Regions from separate parts of the Homo sapiens genome. Here regions 2 and 3 are each linked to region 1. Evidence: fine-mapped expression QTL. A gene starts in region 1. Each other region holds a variant in brackets. All regions are shown on one strand. Distances are from middle to middle. Region 1 holds the start of COMMD10 (COMM domain containing 10). Region 2 overlaps COMMD10 (COMM domain containing 10). Region 3 has its middle 49 kb from the start of MIR12130.

The links. PIP is the estimated chance that this variant, and not a neighbour inherited with it, causes the effect.
Region 2: its variant is the best candidate, but not a certain one, in a credible set for the expression of COMMD10 in whole blood (INTERVAL, PIP 0.54).
Region 3: its variant is the best candidate, but not a certain one, in a credible set for the expression of COMMD10 in lymphoblastoid cells (GTEx, PIP 0.66).

Annotation. Positions count from the first base shown.
Region 1 is chr5:116,083,213-116,087,424 of GRCh38, reverse strand. It overlaps COMMD10 (COMM domain containing 10), which reads right to left and starts at 2,400. Exons shown (of 7, transcript NM_016144.4): 1 at 2,332-2,400. The coding sequence starts at 2,372. RefSeq lists enhancers at 1,859-2,153, 2,447-2,606.
Region 2 is chr5:116,289,402-116,293,606 of GRCh38, reverse strand. It overlaps COMMD10 (COMM domain containing 10), which reads right to left. Exons shown (of 7, transcript NM_016144.4): 6 at 2,031-2,090; 7 at 320-1,156. The coding sequence ends at 1,118. Among named protein-coding and RNA genes, the nearest start is that of MIR12130, 36 kb to the right of the region's middle. The variant T/C (reference allele first, on the strand shown) is at 1,734.
Region 3 is chr5:116,302,316-116,306,559 of GRCh38, reverse strand. No RefSeq gene overlaps it. Among named protein-coding and RNA genes, the nearest start is that of MIR12130, 49 kb to the right of the region's middle. The variant C/T (reference allele first, on the strand shown) is at 2,395.

The DNA of each region.
Region 1 (4,212 bases):
AAGTTTTCATTCCAACAACTCTGAATGCTATATGGTAAATCTGAGTGAAATAAAAACAGATGACAGCCAGCAAAAAAGGCAGGGCAACGGGTACATTTCCAAAAAGATGCCCCCAAAATTACTTCTGCTGAAAAGGTCCATTTGGCAAATTTTCTCTTTCTTTTGGGCAAACCAAACTACTAGGGAAACCTTGTACTGCGCAGGGAAGAGCCTTAATTTAGTAGAGCGTTTATATAAACACTTAACCCAAAAATGGAACTCTGAAAGGGGTGGGAGGAGAGGAATAGCAATTATGGCAATTACACCAAAAACATAAAAGAATACTGCAAGGCAAATAACTTTTCAAATACTATGTACAAAATCATCTGGGGTCACTAAGCACACAGTTATTTTAAAACCCTGTTTCAACTGTAAAATCAAATTTATTATTACAACAGTAATCAATTTTGAGATAGGGTCTTACTCTGTCACCCAGGCTGGAGTGCAGTGGCACGATCTCAGCTCACTACAGCCTCTGCCTCCTGGGTTCTAAGAATCCTTGTGCCTCAGCCTCCCAAGTAGCTAGAACTACATGCGCGGGCCACAGCGCTGGCTAATTTTTGTATTTTTTGTAGAGACAGAGTTTTGCCCTGTTGCCCAGGCTGGTCTTGAACTCCTGAGCTCAATCAGTCCTGCAGTGGCTCACCCCTATAATCCCAGCACTTTGCAAGGCCAGGGAGGACAGATCACCCGAAGCCAGGAGTTCCAGACCAGCCTAGCCAACATGGTGAAACCCCATCTTTACTAAAAATACAAAAAATTAGCTGGGCGTGGTGGCGGGTGCCTGTAATCCCAGCTACTCAGGAGGCTCAGGGAGGAGAATCGCTTGAACACAGGAGGCGGAGGCTGCAGTGAGCCGAGATGGCGCCATTGCACTCCAGCCTGCGCAACAAGAGGGAAACGCCCTCTCAGGGAAAAAAAAGAGAGAGAGATTAGCCCGCCTCAGCCTCCCAAAGTGCTGGAATTACAGGCATGAGCCACAGCACCTTTCCTGTAATAATCAACTTTAAATGATGTGATGAGAACAATTCTATACTGCACCATATTGGATACAGTTTACTGATGTAGCGGTGTTCCCCAAGACACTGGTATGAGGAAAGAAACTGGCGATCAGAACCAAAGTGAGGCAGGAAAATAGGGTCAGGAGGCTGGGAACATAAAGCTGATTCCCACTTCAGCTATGACAAGAAATGTCCTCTCCATATGGCATAGGCGGAGAAAATGACTTTGTAACTTTACTTCATCCTCTTCATTTACATAGGGAGTACACCAAGTAACCAATGGAATCCTCTAGAGGGTATTTAAATTCCCAAAAATTCTGTAGGGGCCCTTCAGCCCCTATGCTCAAGCAGCTCCCACACTGTGGAGGGTAGTTTCATTTTCAATAAATGTCTTCTTCATTCTTTCCTCGCTTTCTTTGTGCGTCTTCTCCAGTTCTTTGTTCAAGACGCCAAGAACCTGGACACCCTCCACTGGTAACAAAAGGAATCCAGAAAGAAGGAAAAACTTTAAAATAACTCTTTTCTTCTGAAAGATTTCTACCCAATCCAAGCACAAAGAAATTACTTCCGAACACTATTTTGCCTATATACTTCAGTACTTTTTCTGTATCCACACGCTACCTGCACTATTGCTTATTTTTTCACAAATTGAGTCTTTTTTTACTTAAATAATGTTAAAGGGGAGCTTTATATCACTACCATGGACAACCAACTTTATCTACCATAAGTAGAAATTAACTAAAAATCTGTTTAAAATGCAAATAAAAGCAAATGCTACCAAAGCCAGGCTAGATTCTTCTACCAACCAAAAATTCGGTCCCCTATTCGATACTGATTTAAAAGGGGTATTAACACATGTTGGCTATTAAAGACCCTCCAGCAGCAGCGTGAGCCTTTCCCACCAGAGTGTCTGAACCGGAACTGAAATCGGAAACGGAATACCGTTCCACGTGATTCGGCAGCACTGAAGGCAGCACCCGGGAACTTCTGATACCAAACTCCGCGAACAGTGACGCAGACCCCACGCTTGCAGACCACACGCTTCCGTACAGACCTCAGCTGCCAGGCGCACTGTGAGCCCCACAGGTGGACCACCGTGACTGTAGAGGCGCTACACGGCCCCACGCACTCCGCAGACGCAGCGTCGCAACCTCGGCAGCCCACCCCACCCCACCCCACTCAACCGGGCCCGCCGCGGCGCCCAGGCGGCAGGCAGCAAGGACAGCCTTGTGCGAGCCCGATCTGGGCCTTCCTGGGCGCGGCTACCGCAAGAGCTTAACGGATCAGCTACCTGGGGCTCTCCCGTAGGATCAGCGCCGCGGGGACCGCCATCTTCGGCTTTCTCGCACTGCCGCCGTCTGTTAGCTGCGCCGAACCCAGCCAATGGCGGCCGCGGCGGACGGAAAGCCGGAAGGCCCAAGCCGCGCAGGGGCCGTTTTAGGGCTCCGGGTCTCCTGCGACCCGGGCGCCGGGAGACTTGTCCCGCAGTCCTGGAGGGCGGAGAGGGCAGCCCAGTTGCCCTCCCGACACTCCAATCGTGTTGGAGTTAAGTCTGTGCATATATATGTCTTTATATTTATATATTATATATGTATGTACATACCTGGATAGGGGTGTGTGTCTGTATTTAATAGGGCAGGTTTAAGCAAGTCTATGTACAGACCTGTATAGATATATGTGTGTATGTTCGTGCATAAATATATACATTATTATTTTTAATAGGGCAGGTTTAAGCAAGCCCGTGTATACATACTTGGATAAATGGTGTGTGCGTGTGTATATTTTTTTAATAGGGCGGGTTTAAGTGAGCCTGTGTGTACATACTTGGATAGGTGATTTGTGAGTATTTTTTTTTCCAGCGTTTGGGCTACAGAGAGGCAGGCATTTGAGCGAGCTCCCCCGAGCCTGCCCAGGAAGCGGCGCATCACCCCTCAGGAGAGGTGGTGCCTCCAGTTCCACCCTAAGCACTGTGCCGTCAACCCCTCCTGTATCTGCATCTGCAGGGCTTGTAGTATGTACGTTCAATTCCTTCAGCAACGTTCAATGAATGAGTGCCTACTGTGTACCAAGCACTGTTCTAGGCACTGGAGATACAAAAGGCCAAAATTCCTGCCCTCAGGGTTTGCCGGCAGTCTAAATGGACAAGTATTTGTTGCACCCTTCTTTAGAGTCTGACAGTGCAGAGTAGGGGAGATGAATCGCTGCAGTGAGTGATGTCAAAGACCTCACCCAAGACTAGGGAGACACCATGTTTGCATAAATACCTTGGTCTGCCTTTGAGAAAAACATGGAGTGAGTTAAAGGAATTCAGATGTGGGAGCAGTGAAAGGCATCCGAGGTAAGATCAGGAAAAGCTCCCTAGGGCAGGTGGCAAATGCGGTGGGTCTGCAGAGATGTGGAGGGTGAGGCTGTGTGTTTCAGGTCAGTAGAGTAGAAGGGCGGTTTGACGTTTGAAGAACAGGAATTTAGACTAGAAAAAGCCTTTAATGACTGGTTGTGGCATGTGCACTTAATCTGGTGAGAAATGGGTAAGCATTAAATGTTTTTTCTATCCATTAAATGTTTTGAACCAAAGAAATTTTGCAGTGGGAGTTGGATTTTTGAAGGTTGCTGTCAGCAGAATGATGATTGAAATGGAAAGAGGTAAGCAGGAGAGCTACCTGGAAACTACTGCAATAATCTATAGAAAGCAGTAAAATCCTGTGGTACTAAAAAGGCATTGGTGAATTAAAAGATAGTGGATGGATTAGTTACGTTTCAGCAGTAGAATATTCAAGAGCTGCCAAAAAATTGAATTTAATTTTCCTTCCTAATTATGTTTTACTTAAATTATTATTTAAATTAGTTGGAGTTCCTGGAGCAGCCCAAGAACAACCTAACTGAAAGGAGAAACCAGATTGCACATTAAATCTGAATAATCTCCACATGGATAATTGAGTCAATTATACAGTGTGTTGAACACATACAAATACATTTAGTTCCACAACACTCTACAGTCCCCAATGTATGCATATCTGAAAAAGATGTATGTGAATCTACATAAATTATAGGTCTCTGATCCAAACACAGATGACCTCATCTGCAACTTAAAAGGGTCCCAGTTCCCTCATTCTTTGAATCATTTCCCTTTTGTCTTGATTCCTTACCTGAAGTAGAACCACTAACCAACTAA
Region 2 (4,205 bases), 210 kb before region 1:
GAGATACTTAACAGTTGTATTTCCCAGATGCTTCAAATAAGAAATGTGCTTCAATTTCAATGGCTTTGCTTATTTAAATATAGGACATTTCTGAAATCAAATTTCTTCATGTGAAGCAAGTCATGTTTGAATCTCTCTCTTTTTGGAAACAATACAGAAATTTCATTCATAAAAAATTCAAGTTTTTTTTAAACAAATGTATGTAAATGTATTCATTACATACATTTTAACAAATGTACGTAAATGTATTCATTTACATACATTCATGGCATAAAATATACTATAATGTATATAATTAAAAAATGTACACTTCAACCAATCCTAAGACACAAAAATTTTATTGACAGAAATCAACGTATTTATGGAAAGAGAATATAAAAGGTATCTGATTCGAATAATGGTGCCCATTTAGCACTCATTACAATTATTTTATTCAAGACCTGATTCTGTCTCCCAAACTATAAAGTGAATCATTATTAATTTGCAGTATAAAGAAAAACACACAAAAACCTGGACTATTATTAAATCATTAAACTGAGAGAGAAACTGAAGTTGACAGAGAAGCTCAGACTGGAATTAACTGATACCATACTACTCACTATTTTACATTTCCTTCCTATATTATTTCCGAAGCAAAATATACTCATCATATTCAAATAAAAATGCCATAGTGTATTTGATTGTATATGGCTATTTTCTTAATTTTATTCATGTAATTACCAAAGCTCTGTATTCTACTAAGGTACACATCTTATCTTGTATCCATGGACGCTCCTTGATACATTATGGTATCATCCAGCAAGTAAAAACTAAGCAGGACAGGCAAGAAAGCAACACTATGACAGTAAAAACAATATGGTATTCACTTTTGTTTCCTTTAAAGGGAAAGTGTTCTTAATAATTACTGTTGGCTCACAGAACTAAAGAAAGTATATTAGAACCTCAGTATTCTTAACAATGATCTCTATTGGTTGTTATTTGTCTAAGAAGTGATAAGCCATATAATTTACAGAAAGCAAGTCACTGAATCCTTCAGAAAACACAACCTGGCAATGTATCTTCAATGCAAAATAATGAGGTGGCAGGAGCGTGATGAAAAAAACAGTCTTCGAAAACATCATGTAAGGGAATCCAGCTGTGCTTGTATAGTCTCTAGCTATTTACAAAGACAAAAAAAAAAAAAGACGTTAGTGAAGGGAACGAAACTCATATCAAGTGTTATTCAGACACATGCAAATAGAAAGGAAAAAATAGCACTGGTAACTATGAATATTAAATCCATTCACATAGCAATAAAATTACCACTTAGAATATTTTTCTTTTTAGGTGAAGATATTAGAATTTGTGCTTGAAAATTTAAGTTTTCAAATTTTCAAAGAAAGAAGATTTCTTAATACTGTTGTTTTAAGTGTCTTCAGCTGTTTCCTTTTAAATTATCACTCCATAATTTTTTTTTTAATGAGACATGGGGTTTTATTGGAGGCTTACATATGAGGGAGTGGGTACAGTGGTGGTGGGCTGAACAGGATAACCACACGCATGCTCCAGTGGCAGTACACTGGCAGAAGAACTGCCTACTTGATAATATTTTAAAGTTGGGGGGTGGAGGGAGTATATTTTCCTGGATTACAAAATCAGTCTTCAGAAAGAGACATGAAATATACTCACAGATAAATCTCTAAAGGCATGTTTCCCTTTACCCTTGGGCCCAGAAATTAAAGTATTTGACATTA[T/C]ATATATTTAAAGTGTCAGTGTGGCTAGGAATCACAAAGTTCATTACTTAATGTTTTATATTAAAGCAACAATCCTATTGCTTTAATTAAAACTATTTTCCTTTTCTTCCTGATTTAGTTTTTCAAATTCTCTTCATTTCTGCTATACTTCCTCCTGTGAAACATAAGGTCTTTTATAAGGGAAGTTTAAAGAACTTAGTTCCATAATATGACATTTAAAAATAAGAATTCATAAAATGAAACAAAATATTATGAAAAAAACTCCACATATTAGAAAATTATTTTAAAAATACAGACCTTGTTATAGAAATCAAACAACTCCTTGTGACTGAATTCCACAAGAACTTTCTCCAGGCTCTGTAAGGAAGAAAAACAACAAAAAGAATGTAGTTGCACACAATTTACATCACATTTTTTCTCTCCAGCTAACCTCAGAATATGACATAAGATTGTCCTCTGAGTGGTTTTAAAAAATGCTTACCTGCTCTACTCAACCCCATGATTCCTAGAACTCAAAAATGCACTTAATAACACTCTAGCAAAAGGTTTCAATTCTACAGACATCTGTCCTTTAAGTTGACTCTACGAAGGTTAATAAAACATATGCCAGTAAGAGAACAACTTTATTATCTAATTTTTTCAAGACAGAGATAATACATGAGATTATATTTCATCTTTCTCAGCAGTCTGTTTGAAATCTAGTAAATACCATTACACAAAGACACTGGAGGCAGGATATCTGATTGAACTCACCCAGCCATTAATGCCTCACATCAGCACAGCTACTGCCTCCAAGCACTAATCTAGCAGTTGTGATCTCAACATGCTGAGTGTTACCTTCTTCAATGTATAGACTCAGCAAAAGTTCACAATTAACACAACAGTTTCAAAGTCAGGACTTAAACACTCTCTTTCCTTTTACTTCACATGCATTAGAGAATCCTTTATGGGTGCTACAGATGCTAGGTAATATTGTATATGTATGTATGATGCTGTAGTAAAGTATGATATTAAACTAAACCCAACTCAACTCAATCCAACCTACTTTTGGTTGATTCTGTATACTGAGGAAACAATTCAAACAATTTGCTTAAGACTGCTCAAATGTGTTTATTTTACTCAAGGTCCCTCTGAAGAAGTGAAAGTTAATGAGGAGAAAATGCCAAGAATATGCTAACTGCTCTGATCACACTGCTGTAATCACATGACATAAAATGGGCATCATGAACTAAAGAAGTAGAAAACTGATGCAAAATTGAGCCACATGGTCATTTCCAACATACTGTTTATTCTAGTTCGCAGTTTCTATGTTCACTTTTATCTGTTTTAATGATTTCCATTTCTATTTACAAAGCCGACATTTCAAACCAAATTATCTCCAACTAATTCCAGAAGAGTCAATGGGGCTATGTTCAGAAAATGCATCTCACTCTTCATGAAGCTAAGTGTACAGGATCAAATTTCCATACTTCTTCATTTTCTCTCATATATCTAAGTACTTAAGCTTTAAAATGAAAAAAGAAGTACATCTGCTTTAAAGCCTCTTCCTTTAAGAATGATATAAAATCATGAAGTTTTTATACTATATTAGAAAAATTCATTGGCTGTCACACATCATTAAAGCTCCAAAGATTTAATCAGCATCATCTATACATAGTATATGCCCTCCTAGCAGTTAAGGAAGGATGATAAGCCTAGGTTTACCCTAAAGTTCTGAGAAAAGCAAGACAAGTTCATCACTCTCACCTCCATCCAAAAAGATAGGAGAGAATGAAGGCTGAATCAGCACGTAAACAACTGATCTGATGTACCCCTAAAGGTGGCAGTCAAGCCAGGTTCTTGTTTTCTATATTTTGCTTTGCTTTGTTTTAAGGTGGTGTTTCCTAAAATGTTACATTGAGGAAAGAGAAGAAATGTAACTTCGAAAACATACTTCTTAAAAGAACAATAGCTATAGGGGTAGACTAGAAAGCTAGAGGCCCTCTTTCCACCACTAAGGTACCAAGTTAACAATATACGGATCAGAATACCCTTGTGAGAACTTGAGAGACCAGTTGAGATGCTACAGCACCCACACCATTATAAAACCAAGAAGGAATTCCAATGAAAGTGGTAGGAAATGAATTTCACAGTGTTCAGTGTATTCATGCATGCCTCTCTCCCATGTGGAATAGCGGAGCAACCAAGAAGAACCCACCACCCCCCATGCCAGAGCTCCTCCCTCAGGACAGAAATAAAAGAATGAACCATACATCCAACATTCTGGCTTTCTGGGGGATTCCCAAGGAACTGGTTTCTGTATTAATTAAAGAAGGGCACTCACACGCCCAGCACCAGCGTTTGGAAGGCACTGAAAACAGAGGTGAGAGGCATATTAGAGCTGCAGTTCCACGGGCAGGTGCCAGAGGGAGCAAAATATCAGAAAACATTTGAGAGGCCCTAGAACTCCCAGCTGGGGTATTAGTGAAGGTC
Region 3 (4,244 bases), 220 kb before region 1:
AACCCCAAATCTAGCATATTTGACAGACTGCTAGCTGTTTTCCAAAAGGTAATAGCATTGGCAGGGGAATTTCTTGGATCCCAAACATGGACTCCTTTAGAACTACTAGGTAAAGGATAACCACATTTTAAGGTATTTTTTTTAACCACTTCCCGAAATGGCAGTTTGCATTACCACCCCTTCCTGCCCCACTTGGAGAAGCAATGCAATATGTAATGTCAAGAGTTTAGACTGAGGATTATAGAATCTGCTCTCTACTCTTGGCTCTGCCAAGAAGAGGGCTACATGACATGGGACAGGTCATTTGTCCCCTCTGAGCCTCAGAAGTGATTAGAGTACTCTGTATTTCCCTGGTTCTTTCTGGGTCTTTCTGTGTTGTTTTCATTCTTTCCTTCTGAATGTTCCCTTTGCTTGTCCTCTAACAGCAATGATTCACTCCGCCTCCCAGTTGGGGCCAATTCTGCTGTTTGACCTGCAGTTGGAGCCAGTGCTGCTTATCCCAGTCAACATTATTGATCAACATTACTGAACAAATAAGTGATCACATACATGAACAAATTTTTGACTCTTTCCTCTCAGCATGCTGGACCTCTCAGTAGGCTGTTATTACATCTCAACAAATAGGGGTGTTAAAATTAACTTAAATTGTGCTCAATTAATCAGAACTTATTCAAGACTTTTTGTGTGTCAGGCATTAAAATAGGCAGGTGCTTGTAGTGATGTGAGATATATGATAAAGTCCTACCCATAGGAAACTTTACCTTGTCTGTGACTTCACACCAACATTTAGTGAGTGCATCAACTGGGGTCCAATCAGGAGACAGGAACCAAACAGTGATTTAAATAAGGGAAGCTTAATATAAAGAATGATTAAGCTGGCTATGCACGGTGGCTCACACCTGTAATCCCAGCGTTCTGGGAGGCCAAGGCAGACAGATCACCTGAGGTCAGGAGTTCAAAACCAGCCTAGCCAACATGGTGAAACCCGTCTCTACTAAAAATACAAAAATTAGCTGGGCACAGTGGCACACACCTGTAATCCCAACTACTTGGGAGGCTGAGGCAGGAGAATCACTTGAACCTGGGAGGCAGAAGCTGCAGTGAGCCAAGATCACGCCACTGCACTCTAGCCTGGGCAACAGAGTGACAACCTGTCTCAAAAAAAAAGATTAAGCTATAAGAAAACAGTAACTATAAGATGTAAGAGAACTTTATAATGTTCCACAGGGCTGAGGGAGAGTGCTCAAGGAAGGATGGAAGGGGATCTTTCCTCAAGGCTCAGGTTCTTATCTGGTTGCAGAAGGTCTAGTTGCACTTCAATGGATGGAAGAGAGGTTTGCTGGCTTGCTCATGCCAGAGCTGGTTAACAGTCACTGAGTAAGAAGAAAGCTACTCTCTAGGAAGTACATGAGCCACAGCCAGATTGGGTATGCACAGATACTTTGGGACTATCACTGTTGGGTAGAAGGCTTGGCACTCCTAGTGTCCATGTCAGGAGGGCAAATCTGAGTGGCAGGGTACAAGTGAGTCACAACTGGTGAGGCAGGTGAGTGGGCATGCAGAGGGGCAAGAGGGCTAGAATTTCTAGTGTCTGTGTTGGGAGGGCTATGAGAAGGTGATCACTAGGATAGGTCAGGGCTGCAAGCTTACCAAGGGACTGTGTGCTCTGGCTGGGGCACAGTACCACCAGATGCACTCACACTCATACCAGTGACCAACAGTGCAGCTGCTGGAGCCTACAAGAGAAGTCCCTTCCTCCTGCAATATCCCTCCAGCACCCTCTACTTAGAAAGCTTAATATGGTGCTCACATAAAGGAGGACAGCTTAAAGGGATTCCAAACATTAACGGCAGAGAGAGAACTCAAGGGAAAATTTGGAGGGACAAAAATTGATAATTGGCACAGTGAAGTATTAAAAGAGCCTTAAACTAGGGATTAGACATTCTGAGTTCTAGTCTGAGTTCAGCTGTGTAATCTTAGGCAAGTGATTTAGGTGTCTTCGTTTTAGTTTGTTCATTTAGAAAATGGAAATAACACTTGTTCAATTAACTAAAGAATAATGCAAGGATCAAACGAGAACAAGCATATAAAAGGATTTCTATAAACTGTAAAGTGCTACACATTTCCAGTGGGTCATTGCTGTAGTAGTTGTATTCAGTTTTACACTTACCATCAAGCTGAGTAATGTTTAGCCTAGAATTAAGGCCAAAGAGATGAGCCCCTATCTTATTTCGAATCCCTGGCACCAAGCACACTTACTTAAACAAAATAAATAGGTTTGTCTTTCTTACTAGAACTACAGTTTAAAAAACTTATTTCTTGATGGATAGTCTCGTGAAGGTATTGCTGTGTCTACTCAATTATGACTAACCATAGTCTCTCAAGGGTGGCCCA[C/T]ACTAATCATTCTCCATTTTTCATCTTACCAGAATGCTGCTGGTGGAGTCAGCAGGAAAAGCCTTTCTGCCCCTGATCAACCTCTACCTGAGGACCTAAGGCAATGCTTTTATTGTAGATCCTGATATGCAAACAGAACTACAGCACTCCAGAAGTAACCTCATTTGACTGGCCTATTAGTTAATGGGTAAATACATGTGTAAATGAACGAATGACTAAGCAAATAGAGTTAACCGGCCAAGGCCGTGCTCAGCATCCTATTAGAATATAGTAATTATAAGGCTATCAAAAACCATTGTTCTTTAAATATAATGCCTTTTCACACACACACACGTGCATGCATGCACACACACACACCCCCACACACTCCTACCTCTGTCCATTTTTCTCCATTCCTTCCTCCACCTTTTCAAATAAATGAAGAAACCTGAGTATACATACAAAATAACTGTTGATTTGTGTATTTGCAGCATGAAACTCACAGTAGAAAATCCCAGGGTTCTGTCTTGGAATCTTGAGCACTGCTCTCTGAGATCTGGAGTCTCTCTCTGTGTGAAGGTTAAGCTCCTGATGGTCTCTGCCTGTCCTGGGACTGCTGTTGATTCATGCAGGGAGAGAGCCGAGAACAAGCTGTGGCTGAAGAGGGCAAAATATGAGGACATGCTAACTGGTTTGGGAAAGGAACCTCCTGACATCTGGCTCTCTGCCCCCACAACAGTGGTCAGGAAGGAGAAGCAGAAAGAGGCAAACAAGCTTAATGGCTCTGAAACATATCATTGGACATTTCAGAGCCCCTTGCAGGGAACTGAAATGTTGCATGTTTTTTAAAGCTAACTATCACTAATTTAATTTAAATAATTTTTTTTGTACTGCCTATAACACATTTTGTGGATGAGGTTCAGCAAAAAAAAAAAAAAAAAAAAAAAAAAAGACACATAAGATTCAGGTATGGTAAATGGTCCAAGGCAGAAACAACTTGGCATTGCAGAATCAGTTTCTTCTGCTTTTGATACACACTGGGATAGGTTAACTACTTCAGGGTGAAAATAACATACGGAAAAAGCCTTTAATTCATTCATTCTCCTGCCTCAAGCACATCTCATGGGTTTCATATGATGTAAATCAGTCCAACTTGCAGATGATCAAATACGTTTAAAAAAGGAGGCACAAAGGTAGGCCTGAAGCCTCTTGGACATCTGTTACTGGAGCACACAAGAGTAACTTGATTCGTCAGTTAACATCTCATCCTCTCTTTTTCTTGGTTTCCTACTTAGCTATGTTCCACTGTAAATGCTTAGTCTGCAAAGAGAGAAGCAATGTTTTCTATTGTTCTTTTCCTTCTACAAATGCAGCAAACAGCCAAAAGATAGAATCAAGCCAGGCTACTGAGGGCATATTCCATACCTCTTCACTTTCCTAGGGAGCTAGAGGGGGATGTTGAAGTTCAAGTTCTCACTCAGAAGTACATAGAGGAAGGTGAGTGTAAGGTCAGTTTCCACCATGCCAGGAACGGGGAGCAGAGACTCTCAATGGTCTATTGTGGCAGGAAGGTAACCAATGAGCCTTTGAAACTGACCCAGCAATGTCTTCCCTCTGCTTTCAGGGAGATGAAATTTTTGCTCATTTAGAATGGAGAGTTAGAAGTGTCAAGCAGGTCTTCTTTGGGAGTCAGAGTAACTGATTTCAAAGCCTTCTTCTCTTACTCGAGGCCTACTTGAGAATTGAAAGATATGAATGATACCTTTGATGTTTTTGCCCATAGCTCTCTACGTTTATCACTGAAAAATAAGACAGATCTGCTAAGACGACTGATAAAGGACAGAGGCTGGAATTGTGATTGCATTAATGGA